Regions from separate parts of the Homo sapiens genome. Here all the other regions are linked to region 1. Evidence: fine-mapped expression QTL. A gene starts in region 1. Each other region holds a variant in brackets. All regions are shown on one strand. Distances are from middle to middle.

Evidence for each region.
Region 2: its variant is fine-mapped to the expression of PCID2 in whole blood (TOPMed, PIP 0.95).
Region 3: its variant is fine-mapped to the expression of PCID2 in whole blood (INTERVAL, PIP above 0.99).
Region 4: its variant is fine-mapped to the expression of PCID2 in whole blood (TOPMed, PIP above 0.99).

Annotation. Positions count from the first base shown.
Region 1 is chr13:113,207,302-113,209,982 of GRCh38, forward strand. It overlaps PCID2 (PCI domain containing 2), which reads right to left and starts at 1,368. Exons shown (of 14, transcript NM_001127202.4): 1 at 1,298-1,368. The coding sequence starts at 1,333. It overlaps CUL4A (cullin 4A), which reads left to right and starts at 2,312. Exons shown (of 20, transcript NM_001008895.4): 1 at 2,312-2,474; 2 at 2,672-2,681. The coding sequence starts at 2,327. RefSeq lists enhancers at 423-1,073, 1,074-1,723 and silencers at 1,258-1,547, 1,808-2,077, 2,178-2,507, 2,568-2,681.
Region 2 is chr13:113,234,345-113,237,027 of GRCh38, forward strand. It overlaps CUL4A (cullin 4A), which reads left to right. Exons shown (of 20, transcript NM_001008895.4): 8 at 719-801; 9 at 2,479-2,546. Among named protein-coding and RNA genes, the nearest start is that of CUL4A, 26 kb to the left of the region's middle. The variant G/A (reference allele first, on the strand shown) is at 1,306.
Region 3 is chr13:113,154,737-113,157,419 of GRCh38, forward strand. It overlaps LOC124903216 (a long non-coding RNA gene), which reads left to right. Exons shown (of 4, transcript XR_007063880.1): 1 at 1-129; 2 at 321-379; 3 at 1,081-1,144; 4 at 1,794-1,874. Among named protein-coding and RNA genes, the nearest start is that of F10-AS2, 2.1 kb to the left of the region's middle. The variant T/C (reference allele first, on the strand shown) is at 1,136.
Region 4 is chr13:113,174,945-113,177,627 of GRCh38, forward strand. It overlaps PCID2 (PCI domain containing 2), which reads right to left. Exons shown (of 14, transcript NM_001127202.4): 14 at 2,592-2,683. Among named protein-coding and RNA genes, the nearest start is that of PROZ, 18 kb to the left of the region's middle. The variant T/C (reference allele first, on the strand shown) is at 1,436.

The sequences.
Region 1 (2,681 bases):
TAAAAGGCTCACTTGAGTTTGTTAAAAAAATAATTAGGTATGGGGGAAAAATTGTAAAAGATTAAGAAAATTCTAAAGATAATCGTATCAAATTGGTTCTTAAATGCCTATATCCTTGTTTAACTTTAAATAAACTGATATTGGAAAATGTTAAGTCTGCTAAGATTAGGCCAAAACAGACACAGCCTAAAGAAAAGGCCCTGGGCTTACATCAAAAGATTGGCAAGTATAGAACTTGAGGTAAGTGGTGTAAAAAAAAAATTGGCAAGTGAATGTATACTTTCATGTTTTAAGTTAAAAACATACATCCATTTCTTCGTGATTCCTGTTTTAACCAGTTTTCTCAATTAACCAAGCAACTGCTGGGCCCAATCATGTCAGACTTTTCAGCTATCAAGTACGTATCTTTACCCAGTTGTCAACAGACACCTCAAACTCAACATGCCCAAAACTTTATTTCTCCCTCCAAATCCACTCTATTCATCTTTTTCCCAGATTACAAGCCTGGGAATCATTCTTAACTCCTCCGTGTCCCTCAGCCCACCCATTCTTATTCACCACGTCTTGGTAATGTTTCCTTCAAATATTTTAAAAATCCATTCCCTATATTTCCTATCCCTGTTACCACAGTGCTGGTTCTGAAGACAGGCATAGTTTAGTGGAAAGAATATGCGTTGAATCTTTACAAGTGTCCATCTTTTAACTGTGCTTCTGCTACTTACAAGCTGTTGAACAACATCTGTCAGACGCATGTACCGAGCGATATGAAGTGTGCATTGTGCTCGGAGAGTGAAGGGCGTTAAACGACAGCGAGGACGAGGGGCACGAGCCCGGCCTGCAGCACGGCCACAGCCTCGCGCTTACTCCTCCATCGCCTCCTGGAGTCCCCGAATTCATCCCGCATCCTGCTGGGAAACAGCGTCCATCCGACACAGCACCGCCCACAGCGGGCCCTCGGCGTGGCCCGCAGGCCCTTCGGACCGCCTGGGAGCGCGGCCACACGTGCCAGCAAGTGAGGGCAGCGACCTGGGACCGCCGCGTCTACTTACACCGCGACGACTCCGCGATCCACGGACACCGCCCGGCCCCCACGGCGGCCCTGCAGGGGAGAACTCGGGCCGCCTTCCCGAGTCCCGGCCGCCGCTGTTCGGCTCGCGCGGCTGCCCGCCGGGGACCCGAACGGAAGAAGGGTGGCGAGGCGGGAAAGGAAAAGGCCTGAGGGTCCAAGGCAGGAGGGGACACACGGAACACGCCGAGGGCCAACCACGCCGCCGCGCGCTCCCCGGCTAGGACCCACCTGCTGCAGGTACTGGTTAATGGTAATGTGCGCCATGGGAGCGCCGCCGAACGGAGAGCGCCACCCCCTACGCCTCAAGCGGGCCAGCTGGCGTCACTTCCGGCCCTCGGTCCGTCTGGGTCCTGGCGCCCCCGGCCCCGCCGCGGGTGCGCAGGTTGGTTCCGGAGGGAGAACCTGGGGACCGGCTCGGCGACGCGCTCGGGCTGAGGGGGCCCGGGGTCTTTCTGCCGGGGCCCCGTCCTCTCAGCCGGGACGCCAGCGGCTCTGATTGTGTGTTCGGGCCCGCCCGGGCTGAGGGGTTTGGGGTCCAGTGGCGAGGACAGCCCCACGGCTAAACTGCCTTTCACTGCGCTGACCCTTCGTCTGCCCCTTGTGAAAACCAGGCCGCGGAGGACCCTCCGCGCCTGGCTGGGCCAGGGCCTCGGGGCGCGCGCGCCCGAGGAGGGGGAGGGGGAGGGACATGGCGCGCGCTCCCGAGCTCTCATAAGGTGCCTCCGCCGCGCGCTCCCGAGCCTGCAGGAGTTAGGGCACGTCCCGGCGCGCACCCCTGAGCCCTCGAGGTGGTCTCACGCCCGGGGTGGGGGTGCCGAGCCCTCAGGAGGCGCGCGCCCCGGGGCCCTCAGGAGGGTGTCCCGGCTCCCGATCCCCTCAGGAGGGGTGCCCGCGGCACGCATCCCCGAGCCAGGAGGGGGTGCCCGGAGCCCTGGGGGCAGGGTCTCGGTGCGCCCCCCGGAGCCGGGGGTGAGGGTCCCGATCCCTCAGGACGGGAGTCCCGGCGCGCGCCCTCGAGCCAGGAGGGGGTGTCCGAATCTCTTAGGGGGAGTCCGATCCCTCAGGAGGGATTCCCGGCGCGCGTTCCTAAGCCCTCAGGAGTAGCCGGGCGCGGCGGCGGTTGGGCTCGGGCACGCGGGCGGGGCGGGGCGGGGCGCGCGAGGAGGACGGGGCGGAGGCCGCGCGGACCGGGGCGGGCGGAGCGGAGCTCGGCGGGCGGCGGCGCTCGGGGCGGGGCGCGGCGGTTCCGGCCCAGCCATGGCGGACGAGGCCCCGCGGAAGGGCAGCTTCTCGGCGCTCGTGGGCCGCACCAACGGCCTCACCAAGCCCGCGGCCCTGGCCGCCGCGCCCGCCAAGCCGGGGGGCGCGGGCGGCTCCAAGAAGCTGGTCATCAAGAACTTCCGAGGTGGGTGCGGCGGCCGGGTCGAGGGCCAGGCGCCCCGGGCGGGGACCCCACGAGACCCCGCCCGACTTGGGGGGAAGGCCCCGAGATCCGTGCGGGCCCCGGGAGCGGGGGCGCCGGGGCGCCGGCCGGGTCGGGGGTGGCTACGCGGGGCGCTTCGCGGCGCGCCCTGAGCCGCCCGCTCTCCCTCCGCCCTGCAGACAGACCTCG
Region 2 (2,683 bases), 27 kb after region 1:
TTCCCAAAAAAAGCTGTGCGAAAAAACATGTAGTAGTAATAGGAACCCAAAAAACTTAATCACCTTTCCAGATACCAGAGCAAAATCATAAAGGAACCTGCCCCATAGACTGTCACCCAAATGGTGCGTGCTACTGCCAGAATGGACCTTAGCCATTGGTTCCTTCATTCTGGCTTTGCAGAGGAAGTTTCATGTCAGATACTGAGCCCAGCTGCAGCTACCCCAGCAGAGCCTCAGGCCTTTCCCGCACTGTCTTGGGAAACATGGGCGTACTTTGAGGTCTCCTGCAACCGTGTTGTTTGGTGTCCCCCAAATGAACAACCACCTTGTTGACTTGCTTTTGCTGACCCAGCTGTGCGGGGCAGGGTTGCCATTTAGCACCTCATCCTCCTACCAAGTGAGGCTCAGCTCCCTGTGGGCCCTGGGGATGGGAGGAGGGTGTGCACAGACCCCGAAACTTGGTGGTGCACAGGGACGAAAGAGAAGTGCAGCCTGGGCCCTGTTGTAGGATGGATGTTAATATCAGCGTCCTTTCTCCATGTCCCCCACACACATTTCCGTCCTACCTCTCCCTCCCTGTTAATCTGTGTTAATATTTGGCTTGAATATGTATTCTGCTTTTTAAAAAAATTACATGTAAGGAAAACAAAATCTCAATTTCTTGGATAGTGTCGACATTCTTTTTGTTACTGATACATTTAATTGTTTTGTTTGTAAGGTTCCAGAATATCTTAACCATGTAAGTAAACGCTTAGAGGAAGAGGGAGACAGAGTAATCACTTACTTGGACCACAGCACACAGTAAGTACCGTTTGCTCGCTGAGCGTTCGTATCTTCACCATGGCTGGAAGGTTCTCCTGGCTGGTTATTGAAATAAAGGGTGTCTTTGTCAATTCATTCAGTACTAAGAGTGTTTTTGCACCTAGCATATTTTACTTTGTTATTTGTCATTATTTGGCATTCACAAATTACAGTTTTTACCCAGTGCCTTGTCATGAGTTACGTCTAAAGAGAGTAAATCTTGCTGAGATACTTGGCATCTTTGAGTTTTGAGACGGTCTATTTATGTTAATGGAGTATCACTGAATATTAGGTTATTTTGATTGTGCATTCTCTGTTACACATTTTATATCGCTTTAATTTTATTTATGGTGCTGTCACACAATTTTCTCTTTTCATCTTATGTTTTTTTCCTGCAAACCTGAGGTTGATGAGTAGCTAGGGAAACAAAAAGGGAGAGATTATGTGAGCGTGTGTGTCAGGCACAGTGTGTCCATATGATGGGAGGCAAGGACAGAGGCAGAG[G/A]GGACAGCAAGGGAGAGAAATGAAAATGATACAGTGTGCAGCTGGGCGCGGTGGCTCAGGCCTGTAATCCCAGCACTTTGGGAGGCTGAGGTGGGCAGATCACAAAGTCAGGAGATCGAGACCATCCTGACCAACATGGTGAAACCCCGTCTCTACTAACAATACAAAAAAATTAGCCGGGCGTGGTGGCGGGAACCTATAGTCCCAGCTACTTGGGAGGCTGAGGCAGGAGAATGGCATGAGCCCGGGAGGCAGAGCTTGCAGTGAGCCGAGATCACGCCACTGCACTCCAGCCTGGGCGACAGAGCGAGACTCCGTCTCAAAAAAAAAAAAAAAAGAAAATGATACAGTGTGCAGAACTGGACCCAGTAGGGAATGATAAAATGTACAGATGTGCAGAACAGGACTTGGTAGGACTCAGCAGAGAAAACAGGAGGAGAGATGAAAATGATATGGTGTGCAGAACTGGACTCAGTAAGGTGCGGAAAGGGGAAGGATTCTGACAGAATCCAGCACAAAAACAGAGAGGGTGCAGAAAAAGAGATTTGGTCACTTAGACGTGTGGAGTTGGAGGAGCCTGTGGGAAATCCAGGATCTCGAGGCAGGCCAGGGTGGCTCGGGGGCCATGTTGTGCTTCCTTCCAACTGGGAGCAGAAGAGCAGCCCCCGGGAGACTGGGAAGCAGCAGCCAGGGAAGTCCGGGGGAAATAGTGGAGAGAGCGGCAGCCACAGCGAAGCCCCACAACCAGGGTGTGCAGGTCACACACAGCTTCCCTGAGCCCTTTCTGCCTGTGTAGGAAGCAGAAGGCGGAATGTCGGCTCTGCCCTTCTCCGTAAGATGGTGCATTAAAACGTTCCTTATAAACTGGAAATGAAGGCTTGGGAAGATGGCTAAAATCAGCAATCCTTGGAATAACGCAGAAGCATCCCTGCTTCCCTGGGCCCGCCCGTGGGCCTGCTTGTGCTGTTCAGTAGGTGGTTTTTAGAAAGGGCTTCCTTCAGCGTCATTAGCAACAGGAGTCGTCGTCCGTTTGCATGAGGAAATGTTCTTAACCTTCCGTTTCTGATTGCCTCTAGACTGCATCTGTCATAGACAAATGCCCCCATCTTTTGCAGAGAACCAGTCTCTTCTTTAAACTTTACTTCTAACGCTTATTCTTTTTACCTTATATAGGAAACCACTGATTGCTTGTGTGGAGAAACAGCTATTAGGAGAACATTTAACAGCAATTCTGCAGAAAGGTAGATTTCCTAACTCTTGTGCAAATTAAACTGAACAATTATCCTTAGTTCATTAGGAAAGTAAAGGGGGCATTACAAATAGCAGTGTTAGGACGTTTGTTATTTTCATAAGACAGTCATTAAAAATCTTTTCTAAT
Region 3 (2,683 bases), 53 kb before region 1:
GAGCTCCAGGTGATAAGCTGCCACCTCCATCCACAATGTGGACATCAGAGGATGCAGCATGCTGTGGTTTGAATGTGTCCCTATAGTGCACGTGTTGGAAACTTAATCCCAAGGCAACAGTGTTGAGAGGTGGGACCTTTAAGACGCATTCATTGTCAGAGCCCACGTGAATGAATTGATACCACTATTGTAGGAGTGGGTTCGTTATTTTGGAATAAAAGGATGAGTTTGGCCCCCTTCCTCTCTCCCCTTTCTCTCTCTCTCTCTCTCTCTCTCTCTCTCTCTCACGCGCATCCACCTTCCACCATGGGATGACGCAGCAAGAAGGCCCTCGCCAGATGGGGGCCCCTGGACCTTTGATGTCCCAGCCTCCAGAACTGTAAGAAATAAATTTCTGTTCTTTATAAATTACCCAGTCTCAGATATCCTGTTACAGCACCACAAAGTGGACTAGACCACACTCTACTCTGTGAATCTAAGACGCACCATTATTGATGAACCTGAAAGAAAGAGCATATACCCAAATTAGCTGTGGGTCAGCTCAGCCTGGAGGCAAGAGGGGGAAGCTCAGATAATCTAAACCACAGGCCAGCCAGGAACCAGCTTTGCAATACATTTACACTATTCACATGGGCTCCCAAAACTCACACAAAAAAATGTATTTAAAGGGATTGCAAAGTGGCAGTGCCCCCAGGGGGCAACATAAAGCACAACCCCTTTCAGGAAGAACTCGGCCTTGTCCAGGCTGACATTAGAACATTGGCTGTAGGGAACAGGCCAATTCAGAGATGTTGAAATCTAAAACATAGGTCCCAGAGTTGATTGAACAGGTATTTAAATAGGGACTGCGGCAAGATCTAAGTATTCAATGACCAGGTTCTCCATAGGCTGCTCATTTCAGGTTCCACACAAAGTTGTGGGGTCAGTTGATTTAAGCTGGGGACCCCCACAGAGGACACCCCAACATCTGAAGGACACGACAAAGACCCCAAAGGAAGGAAGATTCTCCTCAGGTATACAGAAGGAAAGTAAACCAGTCAATGGAAAAAGTGTCCCAATGTTGGTTGGTTTGTTTTTCAGAACAGAAGAGGGTGACAGAAGAACGATTATTCATATGAGAGATGAGGAAGATGAG[T/C]AGAACGAGGTGAATCTTAATGTTTGGACAATTTATTATTGTAGAATTTTTGGTCCAAAGGTGGTATCTTTGAGAAGGCAGATGAGAAAATTAAATCACCACATACAACACGGTCAGTCCACGTACAACACAGTCAATCACAGCTGTGGCCTCGATGTTGATGCCTTCCTGTATTAGTCTGTTCTCATGTCACTGTGAAGAAATACTTGAGACTAGGTAATTTATAAAGAAAAGCGGTTTAATGAACTCACAGTTCCACATGGCTGGGGAGGCCTCAGGAAACATAATCATGGCAAGCAGGCACCTCTTCACAGGGTGGCAGGAGAGAGAAAATGTGTGTCAATCACAGGGGGAAGCCCCTTATAAAATCATTAGCTCTTGTGAGAATGCACTCACTATCACAAGAACCACCTCCATGATTCAATCACCTCCACCTGGTCCTGCCCTTGACCTGTGGGGATTATTACAATTCAAGGTGAGATTTGGTTGGGGACACAGAGCCAAACCATCCCCCAAAACTCACGTTGAAACCTAACCCCCTGTGCAATAGTACTAGGAGGTGGGGCCTCTGGGAGGCACTCTGCCTTCATGGATGGATGACTGCCCTCCCAAAAGAGGCTCCAGGGAGCACCCACATTCCTCCCTTCCACCATCCAAGGACACGTCTATGAATCATGGGCCGTCACCAGACACTGAGTCTACTGGAGCCTTGATCTTGGACTTCCCATCCTCCAGAACTGTGAGCACTACGTTTCTGTTTATCGTAAATTACCCACTCTAAGGTGTTTTGTTACAGCAGCCCCAACAGACTAAAATGGTCCATGAGGGAAGAGGTTGTAGCTCAGATACCCATGTCAGGCATATAGGATGTGCTTAATTAACACTTATTGATCGAATGTGTATGTCCCTGTCTGCCTTTCCATTTTTAGGCAGCTATTGATGGTTTTTAAACTATCCAGCAGAAGTATTTTTAATGTAAATTTCCATGTGGGAATACATTTTCACACAAAAAAAGGCACCTTTTCTTAAGTGAAGGCCACGTAGATTGCCAGGCTGGTGCAATTCACCCAAGAGCTATCCTATACAATCAACTTCTGGCTTTCAAATTATTTTAACTCACTCACTAAAGATAAACTTTATTTTCTTTTCCCAGCTTTTTAAAGCAAACTTCACAACTTCAGTGTATTTGCGGGCATGCCCTCTTAATCAAGGGTGTCAGCTTCTTAGTTTTCTTCTGTTCCCACTTTAACAAAATTGTATTTAGAATCCTTTCATTGAGTTTTGCCACCTTTGAGTGTCATTCAATCGAACAATATCTATATGCTGACAATGCTGTCATTTCATCTGTTACCACCTGAATCTCCACTGTGAGTCCCAGCTTCTCGGATGCCCACTCCTGTCTCCACCTGGACATCCCACAGACACCTCAAATTTGCCAAACCTCGCTTCCCTCTGCCCTCCTGGAGCTTGGCCGTCTCAGCACACGCACTGCCATCCTCCCAATCGCTCAGCCCAAACCTTGGAGCCGTGCTGCCCGACACAATTCAT
Region 4 (2,683 bases), 32 kb before region 1:
CAAATTCCATCTTGAATTGTAATCCCCACGTGTGGAGAAGTGATTGGATCACGGGGGCGGCTCCCCCACGCTGTTCTCGTGACAGTGAGGGCGTCTAACGAGAGCTGATGGTTTTAAAAGTGGCAGTTTTGCTCATGCTCACTTCCCCTTCCGCCATGATTGTAAGTTTCCTGAGGTCCCCCGAGTCATGTGGAACTGTGAGTCCATTAAACCTCTTTCCTTTACATATTACCCAGTCTCGGGCAGTTCTTTATAGCAGCGTGAGAACGAACTGACAGAGGCCTGAACACCAAGAGGTAAACGTAAGGACACCTACACTGAGGTTGTTTCTTTCATCGCTAAGAATAACCATCCAATTACCTTAAAGTATCAATCCTTGACTTTAGGTGTCACTATGGACGGTTCAATACGTTACCCAGAAATGTTGACAAACCTGAGCTTTCCACCGCTATTACATCCAGAATGAAATTCAGGTATGCTGGCAGAAATTCCAATATTCAAATTACTGCAAGAAAATCATTTAAGTCAAAAGTTGAAGGATGTTCAAGGCCCATGCAGAGCAGCAGGGAAGATCAGATTTCCGTACCCAACACTGCAAGAGAACGGGGCCCCACTGGACACATGGGTAGCTAGAAAACAGATGCGCGCCCAAAGCCTCCGCCGGCATGAGTTTGCTCCGTGTCTGCCCCACAGGACATAGGAGGCACTTGTCACGACTGCCAGCGCTGAGGACCTTGCTGCTGCTGGGGAGCAGCTACGTAGGTCAAGAGGATCCTTGGCATGAACTCCACAGGCACAGGCGCTTGCCTTCGTGCATTCATCTCTCGCGTGTACGTGTGGCAGTCCACGGCTGGAATCCGGGTGTGACTTAGGAGAGCAGGGCATAAAAGAGATCTGGCTTCCCTGGCTCTACTGGGATCTGCGCTCCCAGAATCCAGCTCCCTACGTGTGGAGAGAAACAGGGGAGCCCACCCACAGCCCTGCTGAGCTCCAGGTGAGAGCCCGGGCCAATACACGGGAATGAGTCACCTTCAAAGAGGCCCATTCGGGCCCCAGAAGAGCCCACAAGCTTCCCCGCCCAGCCCGGAAGAAACTGCAGACCTGCAGATGTAGGAGCGAGCTAAGGAGTGCTGCTGAAGCCCTGGGGCAGCTCCTGCATCCAGGGGAACCTGAGGAAGGAGCCACACAAAGTGAGTCCTGCGCCGCGCGGCCCGGAGAGAGAGAAAGAGGGATTCACACTTTGTAGAATAGCCTCTCCTTGAACAAGCAGCTTTCAAATGCAGTAACTTTGCAAAGATGAGCTCTTATAGTTTGTGTTCTTCTTTAGTAAATTTTTTATAAACGGGGAAATGTGCATAGTCTGAAAAATGGCAGTGCTGGGGACTAAACTGTGTCCCCCAAATTTCTTACATTGAAGTCCTAGCCCCAGTGTGAC[T/C]GTATCTGGAGGTAAGGTCTTCAGGGGGTAACTAAGGCTAAATGTGGTCATAAGGGTGAGGTCCTAACCCAACAGAACTGTGGCCTTATAAGAGGAAGAGAGCCGGGTGTGGTGGCACATGCCTGTCACCCCAGCACTTTGGGAGGCCGAGGTGGGGGAATTGCTTTAGCCCAGGCGTTCCAGACCAGCCTGTGCAATATTAGCAAGACGCTGTCTCTACAAAAAATAAAAAAATTAGTTGGGTGTGGTGGCATGCACCTGTGCTCCCAGCTACTTGGGAGGCTGAGGAGGGAAGATCACTTGAGTCTCGGAGGTCGAGGCTGCAGTAAGCACTGACTGCACTGCCGCACTCCAGCCTGGGTGACAGAGTGAGGTCCTGTCTCAAAAAAGGAGGGAGAGAGTCATCTCTATCTGTACCATCTCTAGCACAGCAAGAATACCACCTTATTCTTAAGTGTGCAACTCAGAAGAGAGCCCTCCCCAGAAGCCGACCGTGCTGGCAACCCCATCTCAGTCAGACCTCCAGCCTCTAGAACTGTGAGGAAATACATTCCTGTTGCTTAAGCTGCCTGTGGTATTCTGTGATGGCAGCCCCAACAGCCCAATGTGAGTGGCCCAACTTAGCGACTGTCAACCTCGCCGTGGTGCCGAAGGGACGCGCTCAGGGGCAGCCATGCCTCAGCGTCCACGCAGCCCTTCAGTTTCCACTCTCAGTGTAGCACTCGGTAAGCTACACGAGGTATTTACACTTTTATTTTTATTTATTTATTTTTTTGAGACAGAGTTTCGCTCTTGTTGCCCAGGCTGGAGTGCAATGGCATGATCTCGGCTCACTGCAACCTTTGCCTCCCGGGTTCAAGCGATTCTCCTGCCTCAGCCTCCTGAGTAGCTGGAATTACAGGTATGCGCCACCACGCCCGGCTAATTTTGTATTTTTAGTAGAGACGGGGTTTCTCCATGTTGGTCAGGCTGGTCTCCAACTCTCAATCTCAGGTGATCTGCCTGCCTTGGCCTCTGAAAGTGCTGGGATTACAGGCGTGAGCCACCACGCCCGGCATCTACACTTTATTATAAAATAAAATCGGCTTTGTGTTTGATTTTGCCTAAGAGTGGAGGCTTCTGAGTATGTTAAGGAAGGCTAGAGTGAGCCATAATGTTTAGTAGCAGGTGTATTAAATGTATTTTCAATTTAAGATGGTTTTTTAAAAGAAATTTTTTTTTAACCAACAAAGCAAAGGCAAATAAAAT